Linked DNA regions of Homo sapiens: all the other regions are linked to region 2. The links come from fine-mapping of genetic effects on gene expression. A gene starts in region 2. Each other region holds a variant in brackets. All regions are shown on one strand. Distances are from middle to middle.

Region 1 (2,763 bases), 38 kb after region 2:
CTGGTTTTTACTCTGAGTACAGCATTTCCATTTCTCACAAAATTCCAGTTTCTCACAGTAAATAGGGCAAGGTGGTGCTTGGAATCACAGAGACTAGAGTTCTAATTGTTGCTTTACCTCTTACTAGGCTGAGACCTTGGGAAAATTACTTGAACTTTCTCAGTCCTAGTTTTCTTATCTGTTGTGTTAGGGTAACAAGAGTTCTTACCTCATAGGATTGATGTGGACATTAAATAAAATAATATACCGTAAAATTTATTGTAATTTATATGTGCCATGCACTATTCTAAGAGCTTTGTGTATATTAACTAGTTGAATCCTCCACAAATTCCTTAAAATCAGAGCTATTATTTTAGAGAAGAAGGAACTAAATCACATAGAAGTTAGGCTGCTTGCTCAAGATCACTGTGTGTTCCTAGCATGTAGAGTGATGGTTTTCATTAATATAATCTCTGGTGGGGAAATTAGGAACCATCTGGTCTTGTCATTGGAGCTCAGCTATCAAGTTGCTACTTAATAGGTAGTTTCATTAAAAAGCAGAGGACTATATCAAAGTATATTTCTCAAAATGTTAAAAACTTAATTATCATACAAATAAATAGTGAGCAGGTATCACTATCTTTTTAACTCATTGATGAGGGTCACAGCTGGATGATAAAGTCAGCTCAAAAGAGAATATGAGAATGTGATTAACAGAAGGGCGACATGAAGAATCCTTGTGGTGATGGAGCTGTTCTGTATCTTGGTTGCAGTGGTGGATAAGTAAAAGTGCACATGTAATAAAATCATATAGGATTAAGTACAAATATACAAATGAGTACAAATTAAACCTGGGGAAATCTAAATAGGACGGGTGGATTGTACCAATGTCAGTACCCTGGATAGGATCTTGTACTACAATTCTGTAAGATGTTACCATTGGGGGAAATTAGAAAAGAGCACACAGATCACTCTGTACGATTTCTTACAACAATCTATAGATGATTTTGAAATAAAAAGTTTAATTTAGGCTGGGCACAGTGACTCACGCCTGTAATCCCAGCACTTTGGGAGGCTGAGGTGGGCGGATCACAAGGTCAGAAGTTCAAGACCAGCCTGGCCAACATGGTGAAACCCTGTCTCTACTAAAAATACAAAAATTAGCTGGGTATGGTGGCGTGTGCCTGTAATCCCAGCTACTCAGGAGGCTGAGGCAAGAGAATTGCTTGAACTGGGACCCAGGAGGCAGAGGTTGCAGTGAGCCAAGATTGCACCACTGCACTCCAGCCTGGGATACAGAG[T/C]GAGACTCTGTCTCAAAAAAAAAAAAAAAGTTAATTTAAAAACAAAATAAATAAATGGCTCAGAACAAAAGGGAATATGAGAAACTTTTAAAAATAGTTGGTGGAAAGAAGGAAAGCTGAGATAAGATTGCTAAATTAAATACAAAACTAGTTACATCCTAAAGGACAAAACAAAAACAAAAAAATTCCACAAAACCCAAACCCATAGTCTTTGGGGTTCTCTTCTCTATCAGACAGAAAAGAAACTCATCATGCATGATCAGTTCTCAGAATTGTAAACTGTTTGGCCCTAATCAAATGTGCAAACCAAGTTGCACGCTCTAGGCCAGGATCTCTCAATGCCTCCAGCACTATGGAAATTTTGGGCCCAAATAATTCTTTGTTGGGGGTGCTGTCGTGGGCACTGTAGGATGTTTAGTAGCATGTGTGGCCTCTACAGCTGAAACATCTCCACATGTCCACTGGGGGTAAAGTCATGCTGGGTAGGAGCCCCAGAACACCTTTAGGTGAGCTTGTTGGGAAGTGCTCCTAGCATAACGTTAATCATCTTTTCTGCATTATCCCAATCTCTGGATAATTGTTCTTCACAAATAAAACTACCATTTGGAGGGTCACTGTGCTGAATAGAAGCACAATGTGCTCTATGCGGAGTCACAGACTTTTAGCAGAACAGGATCCTTAGAGATTTTCTAGGCCTGCTTCACCCTCCTTGTTTCCCAGCTGAGGAATACCAGTGGAGATGGCTCGGCTAAAGTCACATAGCTAGTTCATGTGGGTGTGTCCAATTCAATCCTGTCTTCTTCCAAATGGATGTGAAGCAGTCACTATGAAGTCTTTAAAACTTTGTGGGTACCAATTATGTGCCAGGCCCTGCGCTGGGCTCACAGCCAGGTGATGGCTAACACGAGGTCCTGCTCTTGAGGCACTGATGGTCTTCCTGGGGAGATAAGGATGTAGGCAAATAATTACTGTGGGAGGGATATTCAGTAGTGCAGGCTGAGGATGAAGGCTGTGATGGCCTTAGAGTCTCAGGGATAAGCCCTAAGGGAGTCTGATGAGGACCAGAGTTCCCAGCTCCATGATCAAAGAGAGGTGGTTGTACTCATTGCAGAGGGAAGTTGTTGTTCCTGGCGCAGAGGGAATGTGAGGCCCAAAAGTGAATCTGCCCACAGTGCAGGCCTGGGCCAGGTTCTGGGATTACTGGGAGGCCCAGAAGACAATGATAAGCAGGGGGAGTGCAGAAATGGGGAGCTGTGAAGAACAAGTGGAAGAAAGGAGCAGATTTATAGCCAAGAGATCAGGCCAAAGATAGGACAGGGTGGGCGAGTGGGAGGAATGCAATTCTGAGATGGAGAAATTAAGACAACTAGAGTTCCAGGAAGAAGAGAACAACTGGGTAAAATCACAGCAGTGTTGAGAGCATGGTGGTGCCCGTGGTTTACTGTTAGTGGTCACTATGGTTTCCAGAAATCTAACTGCATGA
Region 2 (2,763 bases):
AAACAAGGTTGAAGAGTCCTGTCAAGGCCATCTCAAAAGGAGAAGCAAAGCCTGCAGAGGAGGCCAGCCTGAGTCCTGGGGTGCGAACGGGTGCTGCGCTCAGCATGAGGAGGAGGAGACCCTGGCCACAGTTCCATGAATCTTTGCTCCCTTCCACATTATGGATTCTGGTGAGTGCCTGCCAGAGGAATGTCTGACAGCTCTACCCTCAACTGGATCATCTTTAGCCCAAATTACAATAATTTAAGTGAATCAAATTACTATAAAAAGATACTTCATTATTAATTCACTGGACATTTACTGAGGGCCTACTCTGTGCCAGGCAATGCTCTGAACTTGCCCTACCTATTGGATGCTACGTGCTAAATGTTATAGACAATGTACTCTCGTACATTCTATAAATTATATAGGATATAATGAGTACTATATTCTCTATGCTTTACATGCTATATTAAACATCACACCCTATAGTCTACATACAATGGATAATATACAAAATATATTATATATGTATTATGTCTACTAGAACAGTCTTTTGCCACAATAGGAATTTAGTAAATATACATTGAATGAATGAATGAATGAATATGATACTTAATACCATATTCTAGCAGAGCTTGGTCATTGAAGAGTTATTCTTCCAAACCCTTCCCTTTCCTACCCCCCTCTTGAAGGCTAAGAAGATTTTCATCTTTCACCACCTGTTCTGGATTCTTGGAACAGGTAAATTCATTGGCCTACGCAAGTCTGAGCTCTAGGTCTGAACCCGCATGGACCTGAGGGTGCACCGAGAAAAGAAAGGCTGACAACTGGATCCCGGGAATGTCAAGGCCACCCTGGGCTTGAAGGGACCGGCCATGCCTCCAAGCCTTGCCCAGAGAGGGGGTTCAGGATGCTGCGTGGTTCCAGGTGATCTATTGCTTTCTCGAGTTTAAAGTTCAGAGGATCATGAAGTACCACAGCTGGAAGGGGTGTAAGTGACACTGCCTAGCCTAACTCTCTTAAAAATCATAGCCCTACTCCTGCCTCCCCAAATCAGATACGACAGGCATAGGCTCTGACTGTTCCTTAAGTCTTAGTGGCAATACTCCCTGACCAGTTTTGCGGGGTTGCTCCCAGTTCCATTGCTTTTGTAACAGGTGGCCAGAAAGCCTGGGGTCCCGTGATAAGAGTTTCAGTTCTTTCCAGGATGGATGGAAAGAAGGAAGGAAGGATGGATGGATGGATGAATGAATGAGCGGGTGAGCGGATGGATGGATGGATGGATGGATGGATGGATAGATGGGCCAGAGACTGGGAACGGTAATGCCGGCCAGACGGGTCCGAGCGCCTCGGGAGCCCCAGCCCTCCTCCGGCTGCGGGGCCGCTGCTCCTGCTCCCGGGCCGTCACGGAGCCCTGAGGGAGGGGGCGGGCGAGCGGGGGCCTTGGGGCGGCCAGGGCGCTGGGAGGGAGGACTGGGCGGTGGGGACCGGAGGGGAGGGAGGGCCTTGGAGGCGGAGAGGAGGGACGGGCTGGGAGAGGGCCCGGACTAGGGGCGGCGGGCACCGCAGGAGCTCCGCGCGGCTGCAGCGCGGGCGGGAGCGGGGACGCGATGTCGCCGCCGCCGCCTCCTTGCGGGCCGGGGCTGCGCCTCCGGGGCTGAGCCGCCGCCAGAGCCGACAGCCGAGCAGCCGCTGGGCGCTCCCGCGGCGCAGGAGGATGGGCTGCGGCGGGAGCCGGGCGGATGCCATCGAGCCCCGCTACTACGAGAGCTGGACCCGGGAGACAGAATCCACCTGGCTCACCTACACCGACTCGGACGCGCCGCCCAGCGCCGCCGCCCCGGACAGCGGCCCCGAAGCGGGCGGCCTGCACTCGGGTAAGTGGCCGGGCCCCTGCAGACCCTCGCCCGCCCGCTACCCCGGGCGCCTTGGCCCGGGCACTGAGAGAGGAGCCGGTTCCCTGAGGAATTGATGGCGCGGCGGGGGTGGCTGGGAGGAAGCAGAGGCAGGACCTGCCCACTGATCAGTGGACAGATGCAAGCCCAGGGAGTGGGGTCGACCAGAGCCCCTTACCGAAGGCTGCGCCGATGCCCCAGCTTCCAGCAGCCCAATGCTCTTTGGCCTTGTCCAAAGCTTGCTCGCTGGTCGGGAGACCGGTGGGTGGGAGGACAGCCCACCTCCTCCGCACACATATCCCTCAGCCACCCACCCCCTGATCCGCCCAGGGCCGCCTCCGCCCCGCTTTGGCCCATCTGCCATCCCCTGGCCACCTGCGTACCCAGCCGGGTGACTTCTCATCCATTGGCCACCTGGTGCCCCTCTCTCCCTGGATTTATACACAAGGCGCCTGCCTGGGATCGCCTGGGTGGAGTCTTTCTTGTCGCTTCCCCTTTTCTCCCTCTAGGAAATGAGCCCACTCGCGGGCTTCAAAGACCAGAATCCCAGTTTAGGTCAAAATAAATGCACCCCGCCCCATCGCTAGTTCTGCACTTTAGGTTACTTTTGGAGCAGTTGTTCCATAGCAAAGGACTTCTCTCCCTACCCTATGGTGTCCCAATGCTTTGCAGGAGGCAGGGCACACATGTGGATTTTGACTATAAATTAAATACTCTTGCCTAGGTCATTCCTCATCCAGCAGAAATCTGATAAAAGGAGATGCAAAGAATTGTCTGGTCAGGTCATAAGTCAGGATTTTATTTTATTTTATTTTTTTATTTTTTAGCAGAACAAGTAATTATAGCGCAGAGATGCAAACTGTTGCCACAGACTGACCTTTAATCA
Region 3 (2,763 bases), 60 kb before region 2:
GACTCCTTTCCAATGAACCTGCCATTTTTTCCTGCAAAGATTGTAGTTTAAAAGAAAGCCCACTGGCCTGAAACTTTATGTAGCTAAGCAGCTATTTCAAATTCTTTCTGAGGTTGAGGGCAATAAATGATAAAATCACGCAGTCAGGCAGTGTGTTAGTTCTCTAAAGACAAGAGTTCAGAGTTCTGAGTTCTCCAAAGACAAGAACTAGTATATGAAGAGGTTTATTATAAGAAACTGGCTCACATGATTACAGAGGCTGGCAACTCCAAAATCTGCTGAGTAGATGTCCTGGTTTGAGTCTGAAAGCTGGAAGCTGCTGTAGAACCCAGAAGAGCTGATGTCCCAGTGCAAAGGCATCAGGCAGGAGAGTTCAGTCTTACCAGGGTCAGTCTTTTATTCTATTCAGCCCTTCAACTGATTGGGTGAGGCCCACCCACATTATGTCTGCTTTACTCAAGACAACTACTAATTTAAATGTTAATTTCATGTAAAACACTGATATGGCTGGGCTGTGACCCCACCCAAATCTCATCTTGAATTGTAGCTTCCATAATTCCTTCGTGCTGTGGGAGGGACTCAGTGGGAGATAATTGAATCATGGAGGTGGTTTCCACCATACTGTTCTCATGGTAGTGAATAAGTCTCACAAGGTCTGATGGCTTTATAAGGGGAAACCCCTTTCACTTGGCTCTCATTCTTCTTGTCTGCTGCCATATGAGATGTACCTTTCACCCTCCACCATGATTGTGAGGCCTCTCCAGCCACATGGAACTGTGAGTTCATTAAATCTCTTTCTTTTGTAAATTGCTTAGTCTTGGGTATGTCTTTATCAGCAGCCTGAAAACGGACTAACACACCCTCACAAAAACACCCAGAATAATGTTTGACTGACCATCTGGGCACCTTGAGGCCCTGTCAACTTGATGCATAAAATGAACATCTCAGGCAGCTCTTGCTTTCTCAGTTACAACAGGCCCCGATCCTGGCCTTTGGGTTATTTGTTGTTTGATATATACAGAAATTAAACCCAAATTTAAAAAAAAAGGGACTGAAATCTCAATTCCTAACCATGGCATTATTTTTACATTTATACCATTCTGATGCCTGTTTACCACATTTTGTGTGCATTCTTTTTACTGGTCTCTGGTCATCTGTCTCCCATTCTTCACAAGAATTGTTCCAAATCTTCTCCCCTTTTCACAGGGTCCCTTTCCAAAACTCCAGCTCTTTTGTGCTTTGCTTAAGATCTGGCCTCTTCCCAGATAGGAGAGGTTGTTTACCTTGCTAAGGTCACACAGCTACTGTATGGTAAGACTGGGATTTAATTTGAAGCAGTTGGTCTTGGTAGTCATGGGAGCCCACTGGGTGCTGGGTGCT[G/A]GGCACTGTGCCACGTGCTAAATGCCCCAGACTTCCCCATGCTGGGTCCTCCTCGTGCTGGGAGGGTGTGTACTCTTCCAGCCAGCATGCCCTGCCCCTTCTGCATGCCACACTCTGCTCTGATCTTCAGCCCAGCACCCGTCCCTCTGCACACAGGCCTTTGGCGCTTTGTTTGCTCCTATGATTTTCTGCTATTTTCTGTTTAATTCTCTCCTTTTTATTTGCATTATATAAACAGTTCTGTTTCTTTCATTAAGAAAACACCTCTCACAGGCACAGTGGCTCACATCTATAATCTTAGCACTTTGGGAGGCTGAGGTGGGAGGATTGCTTGAGCCCAGGAGTTCAAGACCAGTCTGAGTAACATAGTGAGACCCCATCTCTATTAAAAAAAAAAATTAGCCAGGCGTAGTGGTGCACACCTGTAGTCTCAGCTACTCAAGAGGCTGAGACAGGAGGATGGTTTGAGCCCAGGAGGTTGAGGCTGCAGTGAGCCAGGATCACATCACTGCACTCCAGCCTGGGTGACAGAACCAGACCCTGTCTCAAAAAAAAAAAAAAAGACAGCCCTTTTCTCTGACCCCTATGTCCCTCTCATTTGAGGAACTATCTATCTTTTCATTTTCCTCCACATTCTTTATTCTTTTTAACCTCCAAAGAGGCCCTCCACCTGCATTACGTGCCTTGCCCCATTAATAATGTACTAGTGCTATGTATGCTTGATTTTACATAAATGTTTTATTGTGCATTAAGGTCCATTCCCCATGCATATGCGCACATAAATTGCACTAATTAGAGTGCACAGCATGTTATATTGCAAGATTACATAAAATAGATTCAACACTTGGATATTGTCCAGTACATTAATTCCTTTCTTTTACATAGGACATAATATCATTGATTGTGCATGGCACATTAAGTCACATCAAGTCACATCAATCCTTAACAACATGCTTATCACTTCCAATAGGATTTCTTTACCACCAAGCTTTGAGAAACCAGCAACCTACTCAGGAAATGTCCTTCTTGCTTTGGGCCCATAAAACCTAGGGGCTTCTAGACTTGAAACTATACCTAGCATCTGGTTCTTACTTCAGGGCCATAGATTTGAAACCACTCATTTGTTCCCCCTAAATAAGACATCTCAGTGACTAATGACTAACTAGCACAAGATGACATGGAACTGTGGGGTCATGCATTTGGTATTTTTTAATTTTGGAGGGTGCTGTGATCCAACATGGCTGTCAATGCCTTGACACAGTCAGCTAGATCGTAGCTGCGCTTAAATGGAATATTCTTTACTCACATAAAATCATTTGGTGCTAATTGATTCATCTCAATGGACGTAATAAAAACAAGATATAGACACAGACACATACAAGC

Which allele goes with the higher level. Positions count from the first base shown, and alleles are read on the strand shown. Sizes are in standard deviations (SD) of each study's normalised expression. Not every link is listed here.
In carriers of allele G in region 3, the expression in monocytes after Pam3CSK4 of the gene that starts at base 1,527 in region 2 tends to be higher than with A alone (moderate effect, 0.73 SD a copy in Quach 2016).

Evidence for each region.
Region 1: its variant is fine-mapped to the expression of BAALC in cerebellum (GTEx, PIP above 0.99).
Region 3: its variant is fine-mapped to the expression of BAALC in monocytes after Pam3CSK4 (Quach 2016, PIP 0.95). The same link has a PIP of 0.9 or more in monocytes.

What each region holds. Positions count from the first base shown.
Region 1 is chr8:103,177,569-103,180,331 of GRCh38, forward strand. All of the region lies in intron 1 of BAALC (BAALC binder of MAP3K1 and KLF4), which reads left to right. Among named protein-coding and RNA genes, the nearest start is that of BAALC-AS1, 6.8 kb to the left of the region's middle. The variant T/C (reference allele first, on the strand shown) is at 1,281.
Region 2 is chr8:103,139,199-103,141,961 of GRCh38, forward strand. It overlaps BAALC (BAALC binder of MAP3K1 and KLF4), which reads left to right and starts at 1,527. Exons shown (of 3, transcript NM_024812.3): 1 at 1,527-1,859. The coding sequence starts at 1,700. It overlaps LINC01181 (long intergenic non-protein coding RNA 1181), which reads left to right. Exons shown (of 6, transcript NR_145429.1): 5 at 8-170; 6 at 675-1,157. It overlaps BAALC-AS2 (BAALC antisense RNA 2), which reads right to left and starts at 2,144. Exons shown (of 2, transcript NR_027071.1): 1 at 2,056-2,144. RefSeq lists a silencer at 1,563-1,752.
Region 3 is chr8:103,079,561-103,082,323 of GRCh38, forward strand. No RefSeq gene overlaps it. Among named protein-coding and RNA genes, the nearest start is that of LINC01181, 40 kb to the right of the region's middle. The variant G/A (reference allele first, on the strand shown) is at 1,381.